Regions from separate parts of the Homo sapiens genome. Here region 2 is linked to region 1. Evidence: fine-mapped QTL for protein levels in blood plasma. A gene starts in region 1. The other region holds a variant in brackets. All regions are shown on one strand. Distances are between the middles of the regions.

Region 1 (10,429 bases):
TATTTTCAGCCTTTTCCATTTCAGCCCTTCTGGTTGGTGTGCAGTGGCATTTTATTATGATTTAAATTTTTATTTCCATAATGACTAATGAGATGGGATAGCTTTTCATGTATTTATAAGCCTTTTGGATATCTTTGTGAACTAAGTGCCTGTTCACATCTTTTGTCAATATTTTATTTTTTTCTTTTTGAGACAGAGTCTCTCTATGTTGCCTAGGCTGGTTTCCAACTCTTGGGCTCAAGCAATCCTTCCACCTCAACCTCCCGAGTAGCTCAGACTACAGGTACACACCACTGTACCTGGCTTCTTTTACCAATCTTTTTATTGTGCTACCTTTTTCCTCCTTATTGTTTGATAAGAGTTCTTTATACACTCTGGGTATAATACATATACAATATTGAAGATAATAGAAATATTTCTTGCCTTTCATTCTCTTCATTGTGTCTTCCAATGAACAGAATGACTACTTTTGTTGCATTTCTTAATATTTTCCTTTATGATTGGTGTTTTTTCTATCTTAAGAAATCTTTGCTTATCTTAGGAAGCCACTTAATCTCCTACGTTATCCTCTATAAATTTTATTGTTTTACTGTTCACACTTAAGAGTTTAAATCTCCTGGACTTGAGCTTTTGTGTGTGGTGTGAGGTAACGATCAACAGTCTTTTCTTTCAGAAAAAGGATCACTGAGGGAAAAAAAAAAATTTTCTTCCCCCATAAGGCTACTGAGCTGACTTAGCAGTCCTTTCCTCACCACTCTGTGGTGCTACCTTGTTATAAATCAAGTGTCTATATCACATGGCTTGAGAGGAAAGGAATAAATACATAAATATAAATACACAAAATTAAGTATCTCTACATATGTGGGTCTGTTTCTGGACATTTAATTCTGTTCCATTTGTTCATCCATGTCACTACTGTACTGCCTTACTTACTGCAGCTTTATGATAAATCTTGATATGTAGTAGTGTAACTCTTCCAAATTTATTTTCCTTATCCAAAAATACCTTGGTTATTTAACCCTTTGCTTTATTTAATTCTCATGAAAAGCCTGTGGTATGAGATAGTTTTGATTTTTATCTCCATTTCACAGGTTGGCAAACTCAGAGAAGTAATATGTCCATGGCCACACAGCAACCAAGTGCTAGGGAGGGATTAGAATCCAGATTTGTCTGCTTCTAGGCCTAAGAACTCAAGTGCTATATGTACTACCTCCTTAATCCTAATGCCAAATGACCCCGTCAGGGTATTTAATATGAATGCATTACAATTTTAAGAAATTCTCACGTTCTAAATCATTCATTTGCGGTGAAAAAATCTTGTTTGGGCTGTGTGTGGTGGCTCAGGCCTATAATCCTAGCACTTCGGGAGGTTGAGATGGGAAGATCTCTTGAGGCTAGGAGTTCCACACCAGCCTCAACATAGTGAGACTCCGTCTCTACAAAAAAATTTAAAAACAGGCAGGCGTGTTGGTGTGCGCTTGTATTCCCAGCTACTTTGGAGGCTCAGGCAGGAGGACTGCTTCAGCTCACGAGTTCCAGGTTTCAGTAAGCTATATGATTGCACTACAGCACTCCAGGGTGGGTAACAGAATGAGACTATGTCTCTAAAAAAAATAAAAAATAAAAAAAAATTGTTTGGCAATTACCAAGGCCACTTTCCTGGTGGAACTCAGGAAAACAATGGAACAAGAGGGAAAAACCTCTAGGATTCCTTCCCATGTCTACAGAGGATCAGTCCCGCTCCTCACCTGGGCTCCCCGGGCACGGCCCCCCTCCACCTCTCCAGCTTTAGCTTCTGCTGCCATTCTTCTTCCCTTTGACTCTTAGGCCACACTCGACTACTTACATTCTCCCACTAGTCCAAGTCTTTCACATAGCTGCACCTTTGCTTACAACATCCTCTCCCATTCCTGGCTATTTCCTCCTTTTTCTTTAAAACCTAGGTATCACTTCTCTAGAAGGCCCTCCTTGTCCTCTGTGTCTCCCATCCTAGCATGTCACACTGTCCAAGAGTTCAGCTGTCTAACTAGACTGCCAGACACTGGGCCAGAATAATCGCTGGATTGTGCAACTTGAGTGGAGGCTAACAGAGCTATAAAGTCCTGACAGAAATCAGAGAGACTTTTTTTTTTTTTTTACTATATTCCATAATTTAAAACTGACTCTGGCCAGGTGTGGTGGCTCATGCCTGTAATCCTAGCACTTTGAGAGGCTGAGGCTGGAGGATCACTTGAGCCCAGGAGTTCGAGACCAGCCCTGGCAACACAGTGAGACCCCCATCACTACAAAAAAAAAAAAAGAAAAGAAAGAAAGAAAGAAAGAAAAAAAGATAGTTGGGTGTGGTGGTGCATACCTGCAGTCCTAGCTACTCGGGAGGCTGAGGTGGATGGATCACTTGAGACTGGGAGGTTGAGGCTGCAATGAGCCATGGTTGCCCCATTGCACTCTAGCCTGAACAGAGTGAAACCCTGTCACAAAACAAAACAGAACAAAACAAAACAGGACTCTAAGAGAAGGCCTGAGAGAAAAGACTTCTAATAGGTTCAGGACACATTCTTTGATAGAAGTGGCAAATTAGAAAGCTCAGGGAAAAGATGGAAATATCTTCTGTGATGGACTTGGACTTTCAGTTGAGACAGGAATGGGATGGAGTGCTAGAAAGGCAGATATGTGGCCGGGCATGATGACTCACACCTGTAATCCCAGCACTTTGGGAGGCCGAGGCGGGTGGATCAACAGATCAGGAGATCGAGACCATCCTGGCTAACATGGTGAAACCCTGCCTGTACTAAAAAATACAAAAAATTAGCTGGGCATGGTGGCAGGTGCCTGTAGTCCCAGCTACTTGGGAGGCTGAGGCAGGAGAATTGGCGTGAACCCGGGAGGCAGAGCTTCCAGTGAGCCAAGATCGTGCCACTGCACTCCAGCCTGGACGACAGAGCAAGACTCCGTCTCAAAAAAAAAAAAAAAAAAAAAAAGGCAGATATTCAACGGCTGTATAGAGTATGGCAGGCTGTGGTTTTTTCAAAGACTTCAGAAGAAGTGAAATATTCCTTTGAGATACACAATTAAAACTAACAGCAAGGCAGCTTCTTCTGAGATGTATTCATTCCACAAGCTGAGAGTGGGCAGCAGTCTCTCCAACGGGGCATTTTCAAGCAAATGGGATCTGATGCTCCTCTCTGGATAGAAGGAGAGACCACCCCTAGGTGCTCCCCTGCCCTGTGACCCTCAGACTACCTTGGTGCCAGCCCAAGGCAGTGCGGCCCAAACACTGTGAAGTCTTTTGAGAACCTCCAGGTTGAGTACAACCTCACTGACTTTTTTCATTAAGAACAAAAGCTTAATTTTCATAAACACCTTTTCCAGGAGCACCAAGCTAGCCCTCTTTCAACACCAGCAAAATGGAGAAAAGGAAAATCTAAACAGTATCCAACCTAGGTTTTCCAGATTTTGTCAGTTAATTCCCATTTTTAAGGTCACTCTGCTCACTGAAAGGCAGAAGAAGGATTTAAAAGCCTCTTTCAGAGAAGGCAATACCATTTTAGTCCTCCACATCCTTCATGGTTTTCTCTACTGGCTTAGCTGTGCTCAAAACAAGGACTTCTTTTTCCTTCATTTAGATATTCAGAATCTAGGACATCATAAGGTTGTGGATGTTTTAGAAAATAGATAATCTTCTGGCATGAGAAATATCCTTAATTAGCTATTTTTCCTCAAAACTGGAGGGGGGGTGAGTATTGACATTTGGGTAGCTTATGCAATTCAAGAGCTTCTGTCTTCTGTCTTCAAGTATTGCCTTATGTTAGAAATAAGTTTCCAGAAAATAAATGTCAAAGACCAGACACTCATGCTAAAGGCTAGATGCTTCCAATACAAACTTACGAACCTCCTCCTACCTTTCCTAAAAGGGACTGTTACATGGGGTACAAATATGAATGATTAATTTATTTTCTGCCCACATATAAGAATCAATTCATAACACTTTCCTGTTTGGGTGAGCTACTGGGAAGAATAAACAAAAGCTGGCTAGAACTCCACAAAGTTCCACTGTTCTTTTGTGCTTTCTCTGCTGCACTGTTACATGAGAGTTCCAAGGCAGCAGGGTCACGTGGGATGCTATACATCAGTGGTCCCCAATCTTTTTGGCACTAGGGACTGGTTTCGTGGAAGACAATTTTTCTATGGACCAGGGTGGGGGTGGGGAGATGGGGGATGGTTTTGAGGTAAAACTGTTCCACCTCAGATCTTCAGGCAGTACTTAGATTCTCACAAGGAGCACGCAACCTAGATCCCTCACATGTGCAGTTCACAACAGGGTTCACACTCCTGTGAGGATCTAATGCTGCCACCGATCTGACAGGAGGCAGAGCTCAGGCGGTAATGCTCACTCACCTGCCACTCACCTCCTGCTGTATGGCCCTATTCCTAACAGGCCATGGACAAGTACAGGTCTGCAGCCTGGGGATTAGGGACCCCTGCTATACATGACTGTATGGTACATAGCACTTCTGTGGCATGTGGTTTAAGCTCAGTGTCATTTGATGGCCAGGAGATCCACTTGAAAATCCCTATTTTTAGCAGACCTTGTAGGATGCCAATATTTGGGGCCAGAGTCTCGTTACTAAAATGAATGCTATGGAGCTAAGGCTGTGGTGCCCAGCTGGGCTAGACATTTGCAAAAAGAGAGCAGACTGGCAGACAGTGCCAATTCTCAACAGAATCTTTTGATTAGAATGCCAAGTTGCTATAAGGGTATCAGTAACATCCTCACCCTTTAGCAGGCAAAGGAGGCTGGGTATGTGAGAAAACAAACTCTGATCCACCTGATCCTCCACTGCTTTTTGATTCTGAGAAAAAAAAAAATTGTTCAGTAACTCCAGCTGCCTGAACAGAAATTACTTTCTGAGGAGCTAGAAGCCCTGACTGGAAAAGAGCTCTGGGGGATTATGGCATGGGAGGAGAGCTGTCAGGCATCAGGCTTATGTGGGAAGGACCCACGCTGACTACAACAGTACAAGTAACTGCCTGAGTGGCTCCATAACATGGAAACAGCAATCGTATGTTCCAAAGACAGAGTTACTGTTTTAAGGACAGAGGAACCTTTGTATAGATTCTTAGTGAAAAGCTTATTTTAAGGATGTTTGCTGAAACTCCATGTTTTTCACATTTCTTTTCAAAAGAGCATTGTCCTTCATATATAGTACATGAAAAATTACAATATTCATGTTTTTTAGATACAAAGTCATATACAAATAGAGGAGGAATAATTTCAAATTGCAAACCATACCAGCAAAGAAAGAGGGAAATGAGACTCTAGATATGGATTTATTAGGTGACAGGGATTCTTTTCTCTATATTTTAATATATTTTCCAAGTTTTGAACCACGGGCTAAGGATGGGCCTGTTCTCTGTCCTGCCTAGAAACTGACAGAAGCATGGGTGACCAATCCCAGACATGCTTGGCACTGCTGAGTTTTCATCTCTGTTGTAATCTTCTGACACCTCCTTGCAAAATATCAAGTGTTATATGCTAATACTGGCCCTCTCTTTGTTGAAGGAGAAAGCATGTAAAAAGACAACTGTCCAAACCCTGTGGCTACAAAGTCTTTTTTTGGCTTCCTAAGAGATTTACTCTATTCTTCTATTTCTAGAACTTTTCTAAGTTGGAAGATTTCAAATGTGAGATAGTGTTAGATCCAGGTTGAGTAAGGATTTTATAAAATACTAAATAATGATCAGAGATGGGAATAATCAGCCTAGATAAAAGCATATTCAGCAGGATGTCAAAATATACCAGATCCTCATATAAACAGCATGGATTACATTAACAGGCCTCCCTGGGTGAGTAGCGTCTCTTTCGCCTACCTTACGCTCACCCCATGGTTATATAACCTTTTGAACGGAATTTGGAAATTCTTCTGACCCTGTCCTGCTTGCTGATAGAGTTGAGCCAGTGGCTGGCAGGGGCATAATCTAATAGGCGAAACTGGAAACACACAAATTCACAGTCCTCTTGTCTTAGCCCAGAGACTGTACAGGCAAGGAAAGAAAGACTCGCCCCATCTCCCTCCTCCCCTCCTCTGGCCTAAGTTGCCGCTGACTTCACCCAACAGGCACCTGACCCTCCCAGATGAGCTGGGAGGGGCTAAAGCCTGGTGCAGCCATGGTAGGGGTGGAGGTACAGGCAGCAAACAATATTTAAGATGCTGACTTGTGGAGCATTCGGGCTTGGAAGGAAAGCTATAGGCTACCCATTCAGCTCCCCTGTCAGAGACTCAAGCTTTGAGAAAGGCTAGCAAAGAGCAAGGAAAGAGAGAAAACAACAAAGTGGCGAGGCCCTCAGAGTGAAAGCGTAAGGTTCAGTCAGCCTGCTGCAGCTTTGCAGACCTCAGCTGGGCATCTCCAGACTCCCCTGAAGGAAGAGCCTTCCTCACCCAAACCCACAAAAGATGCTGAAAAAGCCTCTCTCAGCTGTGACCTGGCTCTGCATTTTCATCGTGGCCTTTGTCAGCCACCCAGCGTGGCTGCAGAAGCTCTCTAAGCACAAGACACCAGCACAGCCACAGCTCAAAGCGGCCAACTGCTGTGAGGAGGTGAAGGAGCTCAAGGCCCAAGTTGCCAACCTTAGCAGCCTGCTGAGTGAACTGAACAAGAAGCAGGAGAGGGACTGGGTCAGCGTGGTCATGCAGGTGATGGAGCTGGAGAGCAACAGCAAGCGCATGGAGTCGCGGCTCACAGATGCTGAGAGCAAGTACTCCGAGATGAACAACCAAATTGACATCATGCAGCTGCAGGCAGCACAGACGGTCACTCAGACCTCCGCAGGTAAGGAGACCAGTCCCCTGAGGGAGCGTGGAGTGCCTCCCCATCTACAGCACTGCTTCTACATATCCTGGTCATCAGAACCACTACTGGGGCCTCTTTTGTGGGTACACTTTCCCTTTAGTAAAGGCTTATGCAGTATTTCCTTTGACTTCTAATGCTATGTAAGTTTACCTAACACCTTCACGGGTCTCTTTTATCCACACAGTGTTTCAGCCTACCATCTTGGAGTGCTGAGATACTACATGGTTTGCCCAAAGTCACCCAGCAAGTCTTAGAAGCAGGGTTCAAGTCTTCCTGATTGGTGTAGCTCTGCTACTTCCTCACCAAGAGCTGACAGGCTATATCTCAAGAAATTCCAAGGAAGCACCAAACTGTAACAGCTGTTCCTCTGGAAGCAAAGTTTTGCCAGAAACAGTTCTCTGGTGTTCCTAAGATTTACCAGGAATGAGCATTAATGGAATTTTGTGTCCTCTCTCTGTAAACGTAACTCTTCTCATTGGCTCAGAGTTAAGTGTAGAGACACATAACCATGTGAAGAGTCCCTTTGTGTTCAGGAAGGATGCGGCTCCTTAAGGTTCCTCAATTGTGATACGTCTATTTTTTTCCATGGTCTTAAATGAATTTCTCCGAATACAGGATTTTTTAAATGCAATGCTGAAATATAGACTTAATAGGCCAAAAATAAGATAAATTTAATCTTTCTTTTGCAAAATAACTTTTATTTCTGGTTAGCTCAGCTCAGGTGGGCCAACATGAATTTACGGTTTAGAGATAAAAATTTGGTTTTCTGAAATTATCAGGAAAATATTAGTTGTAAGGAGCATATCCTATAGACATGTCATTTCTTGCTGATATAAAAACCATTGGTCCCATTATAAACTACATGAAGAACAAAGACATGATCAGCTTCTACTGACTAAGTCAATGGTTAACCTCAGCTCAAATTAAGAAAAAGTTTTAACATGAAACCAAGCTTGAAAATTCTGTTACCTGAACCAACATGTATCAATCACTTTCTAAGCATGGACTTCCGGGCCCTCAGTTTGGGATTAGAAAGGTATTCTCAGGCCATTTTCCAGACAAGTGAGTCCTGATTTGGTCTGTGAGATGAAACCAGACATGCGGAAGACCAGGCCAGACAGAGGAATCTGACCGTGCCACTTCCTGCTCATCCAAACAGGAGGCTTTCTCACCATCCTGCAAGGAGGTTCTTGGGGTCAAGTGCAGCTCTCCCACCAGGTCTCTTGCTCTTCTTGCCCAGGACATCATTCCTTATTTTTCTTCTCTATGACCAAGTGCTCAGTTACCCTTATATTCTATAAGTAGGTAGTCCCTTAGAGGAAGCAGTAAGTTGGTGCTTTCACCACTAAGACGAAATGAAGAATAGTGATGGCGAAGGCACACGTACTCTACCTCCCTTTCCCAAGGTGCTCTGCAAGAGAACCTATGTGCCTCAGACAACTCCCATCTGCCATCTTGGTGCTCCTCTCTAAGGTCCCAGTGCAGTGGTCACCAAGAAAAGCACCCCGAGACATAGCAGGCAGGAAGCTTCTCTTGGATAGTAAGGGCCGCAGTCTCTGAATCCTATCAGAAAAGGCTGTCTCTTCCACTATGCTCTTTGATATTTAGAATACAGAGCTTAAATCCTGCATAAAGTAGCAGCTCCATGGCCCTAGAGTAAAAAAACTGGCCAGTCTGATGCTCTCATTTCATTGTTTTAACAAAACTTCTGGGAGGAAGGCCTCAAAGGTTCTTCTGAGTGTTTTGAGGTGCTAGCTGGATGGAAGGGGAAAATATGTGATAATAAAATCTATCTCCCTTAATTATGGTCTCAGGTGGCAGTAGCCACCATCTCTGAACAACAACAAAAACAACCAACCAGGAAACATCAACAAAACCAGACTCTATGAGATATTCACGACTGATTTGTTATAGTGGCGGCTGTCTAAGAAGTCTGAATCTATCTGACAGGAGTATCTGTTACGTGGCCCTCATACACTGTAACATTTCTAGAATTCATGGCCCAGCTATAGCAGAATAATTTATTTCAGAGTTAACCTGAAACCACCTGTTGGAACGTCCCACTAATGCTATCCAGGTGAAGGGCTTCCCTACCCCTCTGCTCCACCGCTAGTAAAGCCAAAATACACCCCCTCTGGATCTCCCCATATCCACCTCTCCCAAATGCAGACACTGATGGGTAATTAACACCACTGAGAATCCCAGGGTAGAAATAAAGGCTCAGTCTCTAAACACTCAACTCAGATGGAGCCACTGGGTCTAAATGCTCACCCTGTGGTTTGTTCTCTTGTAGATGCCATCTACGACTGCTCTTCCCTCTACCAGAAGAACTACCGCATCTCTGGAGTGTATAAGCTTCCTCCTGATGACTTCCTGGGCAGCCCTGAACTGGAGGTGAGGTCATTACAGTCACTGGCCATGCCCTAATACCTGTCCTTCACCCCCTCAAGGGGACTACAACAACAGGGCCATTCACAGTTTAAAGAAAGGAAAATTCGGCTGGGCGCAGTGGCTCACACCTGTAATCCCAGCACTATGGGAGGCCGAGGCAGGTGGATCACTTCAGGTCAGGAGTTTAAGACCAGCCTGGCCAACATGGTGAAACCCTGTCTCTACTAAAAATACAAAAAAATTAGCCAGGCATGGTGGTGGGCACCTGTAATCCCTGCTACACAGGAGGATTGCTTGAACTCAGGAGGCAGAGGTTGCAGTGAGCCGAGATCACGCCACTGCACTATAATCTGGGAGACAAAGTGAGACTCCATTTCAATTAAAAAAAAAAAAAAAAAAAAGGAAAACTCAAACACAAGCAAACACACCAAACACCACAGAGCTATGCAAACACTCAGTTTATGCCCTGCACTCCAAACCCAGGCATCTGTTTGGCCCCTTCAAATCATTATCAGTCAAACAACAAGCCTTCTAACATAGATCAGATCATTCTTATAACCACCACATAACTTAGTTTAAATCTCTTGCCATGTCCTAGAACAGCTATTCCTTGGGGGAGGAGAAAAGAAAACACGAAGGCAGCATCAAATTATCTGGATTTTCACCCAGGCATGGTGGCTCACACCTGTAATCCCAAGTTTTTTGGGAGGTGAGGTGGGCGGAACAATCACCTGAGGTCAGGACTTTGAGACCAGCCTGGCCAACATGCTGAAACCCAGTCTCTACTAAAAATACAAAAATTAGCCCAGTGTGGTGACAGGCACTCTGGTCCCAGCTACTAGGAAGGCAGGAGAATCACTGGAACTCAGGAGGTGGAGGTTGCAGTGAGCCGAGATTGCACCACTGTACTCTAGCCTGGGCAACAAGAGTGAAATTCTGCTTCAAAAAAAAAAAAAGTATCTGGATTTTTCCCTCCAAGCTTCATGTGCACTCACCCCCGGGCCCAATTTGCATCGTTCTTCCAGAGCAATGCACCACCCACCCCAGCTCACCAGCAGTGGGGCAGCATCACTGCCCGAGTGAGCCAGTGTGACTGCGGGAGTGCACACATCTACTGGCTCTGCAGGGACAGGAACAGGTTGGGAAGCCTGCCCTCTTGCTCCTGCCTTCTGCCCCTGCAAGTCCCTCA
Region 2 (10,429 bases), 36 kb before region 1:
AGCTAACAATGACTCCTCAGGAAGCAATTTGTTTTTGAAAAATGTTCCGGATCTAGCCCAGAGCTCATGAAAGGAAAAGGTATAAGCTCTGTGACTCAAGAGGGACAGAAGAAGAGAATGGAGGTAGAGGGTTATGTAACTTTCCTCTGGGCTCCACAGGTGAAGCTTTTCACCAGGGACACTCTACATATCCTCTCCCTTCTTATCAAGACCATCTCTGGAACACATATTGATAATCCTCTTAGCTGGGGCCCAGTGTCAGAAATTGACATGTCTGCAGGGATTGAAAAGAAATCTCTGCTTTAACTCTGGGAGTAGGAGTGAGGTGGGTAAGAATTGGGCAGCAAAGAGGAGAATAGAGACAATAAATGGTGAAAATGTTTGTAATTGCTGGAAAAGGTGAAGGGCAGATGGGGGTTCATTATACTATAATCTTCACTGTTATATATATTGGGAAACTTCTAAAATATAAGTTAAGAAATATTAACAAAAGGAGATAGACAACTGTCCTCTCCCTTTACTCCTGCTTGGGATAAAAACATGACATGGGGAGCTCCAGCAACCATGCTAGATCATGAGGTGAACTTTAAAATGGAGGCACAGGCTGAGCATGCAAAGCAGAAATCTGGAAAAAGGCTAATGATAATAGAGCCAAAATACTAGTCTGGAAACGCCTACCTCTAGATTTCATTTATAAGAGAGGAAAATAAATCAGTAACTTGCTTTAGGCAACCAAAGCCAAATCCTACTGTGGTATAAGAAGAAATATGTTTGGTCTTTGTCCCTAGTGCCTGGTATAGAGCTATCGAAAACCCTCTGCATTTCCTGAGTGATAGGAGTGTTCCTTATTATTCATAATGAGCCCCTATTGATTATGCTGATAAGGTAGAATGGTTTAAGAAAAAATTTATTTATTGAGAAGGCCAATTATAGAGATGACTTTATGACTTTAGGCATAGCTGGATGCAGGAACCTAAAGAGACTTCTCCTCATCTCTCTTTAAAACAAAAAAATTAGGGCCAGGCGCTGTGGCTCACACCTGTAATTCCAGCACTTTGGGAGGCCGAGGAGGATGGATCACGAGATCAGGAGTTCAAGACCAGCCTGGCCAACATGGTGAAACCCCGTCTCTACTAAAAATAGAAAAATTAGCCGGGCGTGGTGGCAGTGCCTGGAATCCCAGCTACTCGGAGGGCTGAGGCAGAGAATTGCTTGAACCCGGGAGGCGGAGGTTGCAGTGAGCCGAGATCGTGCCACTGCACTCCAGCCTGGGTGACAGAGCGAGACTCCATGTCAAAAAAAAAAAATTATGTGTGTGTGTGTGTGTATATATATATATAATTGGTAGAGACGGAGTGTCACTATGTTGCCCAGGCTGATTTCAAACTCCCAGGCTCAAGTGATCCTCCTGCCCAAGCCTCACAGAGTGCTGGGATTACAGGTGTGAGTCACCACACCCAGCCTTCTCATCTCTTATTTCTGCTTTCAACTGAAGAGGTAAATGGAGACACAGAGATGCATACCCTAGTACCCTGCTGAATGTGTAGGTGTATGACCCCACTAACCTTACAGAATATCCAAACCTATTGCCAAAGAGATTGGTTCTTTGAGTAGCATGTGACTTAAACTTTGCCTTATGTTGTCTCTCCCTCCTTCTCCCCTTCCAGGATGGGGCTGGTTACCAGAAAGACCAAGTAATTATCGGGTTTGAACTTTCAGCCCTGTCCACTGACATCCAGGAAAGGTGAAGAGGTTGAAAATGAAAGGCAATAAAAACTCTTGAACAATGAGCTTCCAGGTTGATGAAGGTGCTGGGAGGGTGAAGGTAAACCCCAGTACCACAGGACAGAAGCTTCTGCACTCCAGACCCTTCTAGACCTTCCCTCATTGTACCTGTTCACCTCTATCTTTTATAATACCCTTTATAATAAACAAGTAAATGTAAGTAAAGTGTCTCCTTTTGTTCTGTGCGCTGTCCTGGCAAATTATCAAACCTGAGGAGGAGGGTTATGGGAACCCTGATTTACAGCTGGTCAGTGAGAAACACAAATCACAACCTGGAACTTGTGATTGGCATCTGAAGTGGGGCGATATTTTGGGACGAGCCCTTAACCTGTGGGATCTGATGCTATTTCCAAGTAGATAGGGTCAGAAATGAACTACTTGACACCCCACTGGTGTCTGCTGACAATGGCTTGGTGTATGGGGAAAAGCATCTGGCATCAGTACTCTGTGTGAGTGTGCTAAGTGTGTATTTCTCACCCACTAAATCTCAATTTTGATTTTGTGCACCGTTTTCCTTGGCCTCCCCACGAAGATCCAATTTTCCCCATGTCTAACAAGTTAATAAAAATCATCAGGTAGAAAGGACAGATGGAAGGTGTAGAAGTAGGTGGATACAGACCATTTTTACCCTTCCATAGACCTGGATCTCCACCTAGAGCCAGCACCTTACTCTTCTGATGCGAGCCCCTAGCCTCACTCACCCCATCCTTCACAGGGTGCCTGTGAGGGAAGCTTTACCTAAACCCCATGCAGCTGCAGCAGCCATCCGGGCCATCTTGGCTTGGGTCTCATCATTAACCAGGGTCCACTTTTCACAGCACTGCTGGTGGAGTTGACCCCTGAAGAAAATGAATTATATAGTCAGATTAATCCAAATCTCCTTAAACTACCAATCTTCCTCTCCTGCCCCTTGGGTTAGGTGAGGACTACACAGGAACTGGACACCTTTAATAAAAAAGCACATTCTACTAGGTCACATAATAGAGAATCAATGGGCTATTTGTTGTTTCTATGACCCGGTGCTCGTAATTTTTCTGGGTGAGTTTATCAAGGATAGGAACCATGCCTAACTCTGTGATATGAAATGTCCTGAACATCTGGCTCCCTTCATAAATATTAAATAACTTCTCTCCTATGCCAAAGAATTCTGGGCTCTTTCCCTTTGGCAGGCCTACAGAGAAAGCAATCTGAAGAGACGCATCTGGACATTCATTTTGGGCTCAAAGCTATAGGGAGAACTGGCTCCTAAAAGTATTATACCAATGGTTTCAGTCTGAAATGAAACCCAGATGAAATCAATCTGTACAGAAGAAAGGCTCCACAATGGTCACATCTACCAGAAGGCTAGATGCTGCTTATTCTCAGAATTTTGCACAATTGCTGAATGTGAAGGAGGACTATGAGATATTGAGATATAAATGGTGCTTAAGACACCCCAATAAACAAAAGAGAACATGGAAGCCCTAGAATAGGGTCTTGCTATTGACTGTTGAAACTCCCTCTCATGTTTCGCTTCTCAGTGAAAAAAAATAAACTCGGCTATTATGCAAATCCGAGTCCCTGATTTCATGTGAGCTTCAAGATGCAGCTAGGAGACTCCTTAATTTTTCCTGCTTTCTGAAAGACATGCTGCAGGATGATTTAACTTGGCACTGGAGGTGGAGTCATGAGGAAGGGCACAAGTTCTAAGTGGCCCAGGTCAGAAGCCTCATGGAACATGAGCTGCTCTGCGCTCTAAGGTGGTGTAGGAGGGCGGGGATAAAGATGCTGAAGTCAATCCCTGCAGAAGGAATCTAGGCTGAGCTCACCAAGAAGCTGACTGTGGACCACGTCTAGGAGAGGTACTCAGGGCCATTATCCAGCATCGCAGTACAGCAGATATTAACTTTGTTGTCTCTCTGGCACATGATCAAGAAAACCAGGGACACAAGCACTCTGGCTCAATACAGAGCTGAGACCAAAAAGAGGAACTGGTGGCCATGATGCCCTATGCATTTACTGAAGCTCCATTAAGGGAACAGGATAAACCTCTGTGTTGGTTTTCTGCCACCGAGACTTAGAAATCTTCACTCCTGGGCCCTGCTAGGGGTTCCCTTAGAGCAGTAGTTCTCAAACTACTAAGTGCATCAGAATCCCCTGGAAGGCTCCTTCAGATGGCTGGGCTCCACCCTCTGAGTTTCTGACTCAGTAGTGCTGGGATAGGGGCTGAGAATGTGCATTTGTAACAAGTTTCTATGTGACGCCAAAACTGCTGGACCAGGGGTCACAGTTTGAGAACCACTGGCTTAAAGCAGAGGCACAGCTCATCTGCACAGCATATTTTTGTAGGGATCCTGACTAGAGGTAGAAGAGAAAGCTGCATGATCTCCAAATGGTCCTTCCAACCCTATAGTTCAAAATTTACAGCTGGTGAACACAAGCAACTTGGATGAATGCATCCTTCATGCAAGCTGTCCCTCCTAACTCAGCCTCCCTCTATTATTTTTTCAGGATCAGCTGATTCTGTGCCACAGGACCAAGGATGTAGTTTTTCTTTTCATCTAGAGCAGGAAGCAAGTTCAGTGCTGAAATCCCACAAATTGTTACCCCAAGAGACAAAGCAGGGAGCAATGTAGGAACAGCAACTCAGAAGGGCAAGCCCTAGCAGTGAACTTCGCACGGCCTTCACCATGCAGCTGTGTGGGAACAGCTGTCAGAGCTTGGTCAGTACACAGACAAGAGCATTGCTCTTCCACAAACATTTGTTACAAAAAATAATGCAGAATATACCGAGTCCTACCTCTCAAGGGCGGTTGGGTGAGGGGCAAAACCAAATAAATAAAAAACATGAGATTGTTTATGGGGCAACAACTAGGATATGTTTTTCTGATACCTTTCACTACACATAGGGAGGACTGGGTAAAAGGTGCACCCTCTGAGACTTTGATTTTCTCACCTAGCGTTCTGGCAAAAAACGCAGAAAGTGCTTGCTTTGGCAGCACATATACTAAAATTGGAACGATACAGAGAAGAT[A/G]GCATGGTCCCTGAAGATTTAAAACAAATAAAAAGCTTAGGAAGTATTCTTTCATTTGGAATGGCTCCATGGCTCCTCTTAGGGTTGAGGGCCTATGATCTCACTCCCGAGGAATCTGTTCTCAATACCTAGCTGTGTGGGGAACAGTTTGAGGAGGGGGTTCACTTTAGTTCACTTTGGCTGCAGGCGTGGCTGCCTGCACCATAGGGCTGGGCAGGGCAGGGGGTGCGGGTTGCCTAGCTCTCACAGCCTCCTGGAGGCAGATAAGAATGGGGAAATGGGAAGGGTCTCAGCTCACTGTTAACTCCAGATCATTCTTCATGTCACCTCTGATGAACATCTGCCTCAGGCATATTCAGGATATACGCACACAAAAGAAATTTAGAAATTGCACTCTAAACAGAATTGACTGAATAAACCGTATCAGAAACCTGCATATGATCAGGAAAAATATTCTGCTTCTTTCGACTCGTTTTAAAACCTCTTTTAGTCTCCCACATTCTTAAATCCTTTGGTCAGCATTACTAGCCACTTACGCTTTATGGGTAACTATAAAACGGGAAAGAACCCAAGAGGTCAGAGGTATTTGGGACTGAGAACGGCAACATCAGGAGATCGATATCACTCAGCTCGGTTTTCTCAACTTCTGTGAGCCTCAGTTTCTTCAACTATAACACAAAGGAATTGGAGGAAACCACATCTCAAGTCTCTTCCAATGTATCCAATCTGCTCCTACTAACCCAGCTAGGAAAAGTGGTCATCTTTAATGTGAAAGGAGAGGAGTGGAAGGGGAAGGGGCCAGGAGAGGTTTCAAGAGGGAAGAAACAGTGGAGAGGATTTCAAAAGTAGAAAAAGAGGCAGAAGAAGAGGGCAATTCAAAGAATGGAACGAATGAATGTAGGACTTGGAGAAGAGTGAATAATTTGGCCAGAGCTCAGATTATGAGAGAAGGGTTCACAGAGAAATGTGCTGAAGAAGCGGGCTGGTGCCATAATAGGAAAGACTTTGAATGCCAGGCTGTGATATTTATATGTAAATCCAATGGCAACAGTGAAACATTGCAGTATTTTAGGAATTGATTAGAGTTGAATTTTAAGAACACTTCCATCTCGTTTTATCTTTCTCATAACAAGATATGATTGTATGACAGCTGATATGAAACTAGAAAAATTGTTTTTGAAATAATGTGAATAATTCTTATTAACATACTTTTCTTTTGCCTTAGATCAGTGTTGTCCAATAGAGCTTTCTGTGATGATGGAAAAGTTCTCTATGTGCACTGTCCAATACAGCAGCCACTGGCCACATGTGGCTACTGAACACCTAAAATGTGGTATGACTGAGGAACTGAATTTCACATTTTATTTAATTTAAAAATAGCCATAAGGCCGGATGCAGTGGCTCACACCCGTAATCCTAGACCTTTGAGAGGCTGAGGCAGGTGGATTTCTTGAGGTTGGGAGTTCAAGACCAGCCTGGCCAACATGGCGAAACCCCATCTCCATTAAAAATACAAAAATCAGCCGGGAGTGGTGGTGCATGCCTGTAATCCCAGCTACTCAGGAGGCTGGGGCAGGAAAATCACTTGACCCTGGGAGGTGAAGGTTGCAGTGAGCCGAAATCACAGCACTGCACTCCAGCCTGGGTGACAGAGTGAGACTCTGTCTCAAAAAAAAAAAAAAAAAAAAAAAAAAAAAAAAAAAGCCACATGTGGCTAGAGGCTACCATATTGGACAATACAGCTTTAGATACTTGTTGGACTGAGAAAAACAACAACAACAACAACAACAACAACAACAGCTTTAGTTATATAAATAAATAAAGCGGATTTTAAAAGACATGCTTCCTAAATTTATTGAGGTAAATGAACATGGAATTTTTGTTGTTGTTGTTGTTGCCCAGGCTAGTGTCAAACTTCTGGGCTCAAGCAATCCGCCTGCCTCAGCCTCCCAAAGTTTTGGGATTACAGGTGTGAGCCACCACACTCAGCCTTTTAATGTTAATTTATAAAAATAAATAACACTTCCTATAAATAAAAAAATAAAAATAAATAAAAATCTTCCTAATGATGGTTAAATCAGACAAGCCACTTTCAAATAATTGTGGAATATTATCTCTCTCTCTATATATATATATATGATCCAATGCCTAAGGCTAAGTTCACTAACATTAAATTTTCATGCAAAACATTATAACATCTTCTATCTTGGGGATGTAGTAATAACTTTATATTAAGAAATAACAGCCAAACTTGGCAACATAATGAGACCCTATCCCTACAAAAAATAATTTAAAAAAATTAGCCAGGCATGGTGGTGCATTTCTGTAGTTCCTTCTACTCAGGAGGCTGAGGTGGGAGGATTGCTTGAGTCCAGGAGTTCAAGACCACAGTGAGCTGTGATCACACCACTGTACTCCACTGAGAGACAGATTAAAGTCCTGCCTCTTAAAAAAAAAAAAGAAGGCTGTGCACAGTGGCTCACACCTGTAATCCTAGCACTTTGGAAGGCCAAAGAGGGAGGATCGCTTGAACCCCAGGAGTTCAAAACCAGCCTAGACTGCACTGTGAGACTCCGTCTCTACAAAAAATAAAAAAAATTAGCCCACTGTGGTGGTGTGTGCCTGTAGTCTCAGCTACAAGGGAGGCTAAGGTAGTACAGAAAGACTACATGTAGTGAAAGATCATTCTTTTAGAAGACTTGCTTTGATTTTGTCCAATATTCTTAAACTTTCCAAGGCAGGAAATGTCTAAACAAATAAAAATTTGCCTATATTAAATAGACTAGATTTATTGATATGATGAAATATCATGCAGCTATTAAAAAAATGAGGCAGTAGCTCTACAGGTGCTGATATGGAACAGTGGCCTAGACTTGTTAAGTGAAAACAGCAGAGTGCAAAATGGTAAAAACAGCACATTGCCGTCAATGTACATCCCTGTGATGGGGGTCAGGATATACTACCCTGAAATATAGCACACCTTGGCATACTGAATATTTTAAGAAAATGGCAGCAAAAAAAAAATTACTCTGACTCTCCCCTGCCCTTATGCCCTGAAGCAGGTCATAACATCTAGGAAAAATATTTTGACCTTCCCCTGAAGGAGGTCATAAGGCCCTCATGTGAGAGATGCCTTCCCTATACCTGGAGGAAAGGTACATCCTTATTTCTGAAGACAGGGGGTCACAGAGAAGAATCTGAACAAAAAGGCCTACTAAAATCCCCCATACTGTGCTCCTCATTGTACAGGTCCAAGTTAGATATCGTTTCCTCCCGGTATCTTCCAAGGCTGATTAGGGTGCTTCCTATTACCCACAGCCCCCTGGGCTCCTTTGTTGATGGTATCACAATGTATTACGACAGCCTGGTTGTCTGTCCTGTAAGCTCTGGGAAGGCAGGGGCTGTAACTGTCTTGCTCACGGCTGTGTCCCTAGGGCCTGGCACAGACACTAGCAATGAATACACACGTGATAGTTACTGGCTGAATGAAGGAACAGTGGACCCTCAGTATCATGTTCCAGAGAAAGTAGGGATAACCTACTAGTCGGGAGGTAGCATGGAACTTTGTTTTAGTCATTTATTTTTTATTTATTTTTATTTATTTTTTTGAGATAGAGTCTCGCTCTGTCACTCAGGCTGGAGTGCAGTGGTGCAATCTCAGCTCACTGCAACCTCCGCCTCCCGGGTTCAAGTGATCCTCCTGCCTCAGCCTCCCGAGTAGCTGGGATCATAGGCCTGCAACACCACGTCCAACTAATTGTTTATTTTTAGTGGAGACGAGGTTTCGCCATGTTGGCCAGGCTGGTCTCAAACTCCTGACTTCAAATGATCTGCCTGCCTTGGCCTCCCAAAGGGTTGGGATTACAGGTGTGAGCCACTGTGCCCGGCCTGTTTTAGTCATTTAAAACTGCAATTAAACAGTTTAACAATGATAGTATAGCATTTTATTTTAACTATTTTTTAAAAGTTGCACTTGTTGTTGGAAACAGAATGGAGGCCATTTTTTCCCTTCAACATTCCCAAGCAACTCTCCAAACCAAAACCTAGCCAAATGTTCTCAGTTACGCATTACTGTTGCTTGCACCTGGAGTACCTGTTTCCCCCCTACCTTCTCCTTTACCTATCTCCTAACTCTCAGTCCTTCCTCCAGGAAGTACTGCAAAATCACCCTGCTTCCTCCTTTGGGCTTTCAAGGTAGCATGGCTCACACATTATCAACATCCTCTCAGGCTATAATAACCCTCTGTTTACGTGGCTGTCTCATCAACCTCACAGGAAAGGCCTGTTTTCTTGTGTATTTTGTTTCCTTGGAGCCTGGCATAGTGCTGGACACACAGTAAGCATCCGATATAGGTGAAGCACCTGAAGAGGGCAGTCACTGTTCTTCTTTCCTAAAAACATCTGCAAGAGCTAATTTTAAAAATCAAGGTTGCCAAGTAAGAATATGAGCTCTTCACTGGGTCAGTAAAGATCAGGAGAGTAGACAGGAGAAGTAGATCCCAGGAGCACCCCCAAGGCTGTCCTGTCCTAGAGCATTATAAAGTTTAAGTGAAGGCCTTCCTACTTAGCAGCTGAGATAGAATGGAGAGAGAAAAACACCAAAAGTGAAAGATGATTCCTGAGAAGTATCAAGTGGAACAAAATGAGTCTGAAGTGAGAACTCCGTGTGGGGGAAGCCTTCCTTTCAAATCCAAAGATCAAAGAGACGAAGTCTCTTGCAGCCACACATGCCATCATTCTAGGAAGCTCACCATTCCCCCAAGGCCTCGAGGCAGCGCATGCGGCCCAGCATCAGCTCTGGGTCGTCCTTGTTGGTGTCCATTTTCTTGTCATAGGCCACAAGGGCATCCTCCCACTCGTGCAGTTTCTCATACCAGGTAGCCTGGATCTCCTGTTACATGGGAAAGAAAGACTGCTGTGAGGTACACAGAAGAAGGGATCACATTGTTTAATCCACATACTCTCTTTCCTAATGTGCTGCTGTACGCATGACACTTCACCTATCACAGTTACGTCTGGGCTTGGATTAAAAACAACTTCAGACAATCTGGAGGAGTGCTGCTTGGGGAAGGTGGAAATACTGGTTCCTTGGCACATGGATGGAATGATCCTGGGATTATCTGAGAGCAGACGTCAGGCCATACTCCTCCCCCATTATTTCCTTCCCAGACACATGGGTCATCAGAACACACCAGGATGTGCGGACACGAGGACAGGGGAAATCATTTAGGGATAGAAGAAAACGTCGACCAGAGCACCAGAGCTGTTTCAAAGGTGCCATCGCTCCGATCTGCTGGAGTGCTGACACTGGGCTACTTGACAGGGATGGCAGCTGCTTTCCTGATGGGGCCAGAAAGACCAGGCCTCATCTGCATGTTTGCTGGAGGAAAACAACTCACTTTTTAAAACCTCTTGATTCTCTGCATTTCTTAACACATTTTTAAACTTTCAGGAAATAATAATTTAAAATATAACACCACCACTTAAAATTTTTTGGAAAGTCTTTCCCCTATTCTTCTAGAGTCTCCCATCCAATGTTCCCTCCTGCTCAGTGCTTGGCAGGTTTACCAGTGTCAGGGGCCAAAGGAGGGATTGCATTACCCTAGCAGATGGTGTGCCACGCTGAAAGAG

Which allele goes with the higher level. Positions count from the first base shown, and alleles are read on the strand shown. Strength reflects both the effect of a copy and how common the allele is.
For the plasma level of the protein whose gene starts at base 6,228 in region 1, allele A in region 2 goes with a higher level than allele G (strong association).

What was found. A credible set is the group of variants that fine-mapping cannot tell apart. PIP is the posterior inclusion probability: the model's chance that the variant is causal. The UK Biobank Pharma Proteomics Project read protein levels with antibody pairs (Olink). The fine-mapping took linkage between variants from a reference panel, not from the people measured, so its PIPs are less certain.
Region 2: its variant is the best candidate, but not a certain one, in a credible set for the plasma level of the ANGPTL7 protein (UK Biobank, PIP 0.61).

The regions. Positions count from the first base shown.
Region 1 is chr1:11,183,128-11,193,556 of GRCh38, forward strand. It overlaps ANGPTL7 (angiopoietin like 7), which reads left to right and starts at 6,228. Exons shown (of 5, transcript NM_021146.4): 1 at 6,228-6,828; 2 at 9,143-9,243. The coding sequence starts at 6,453. All of the region lies in intron 28 of MTOR (mechanistic target of rapamycin kinase), which reads right to left. RefSeq lists an enhancer at 6,581-7,081.
Region 2 is chr1:11,147,603-11,158,031 of GRCh38, forward strand. MTOR (mechanistic target of rapamycin kinase) reads right to left here. Exons shown (of 58, transcript NM_004958.4): 30 at 9,550-9,689; 31 at 2,524-2,624. MTOR-AS1 (MTOR antisense RNA 1) reads left to right here. Exons shown (of 4, transcript NR_046600.1): 4 at 1,668-1,936. It also overlaps the pseudogene RNU6-537P. Among named protein-coding and RNA genes, the nearest start is that of MTOR-AS1, 8.9 kb to the left of the region's middle. The variant A/G (reference allele first, on the strand shown) is at 4,799.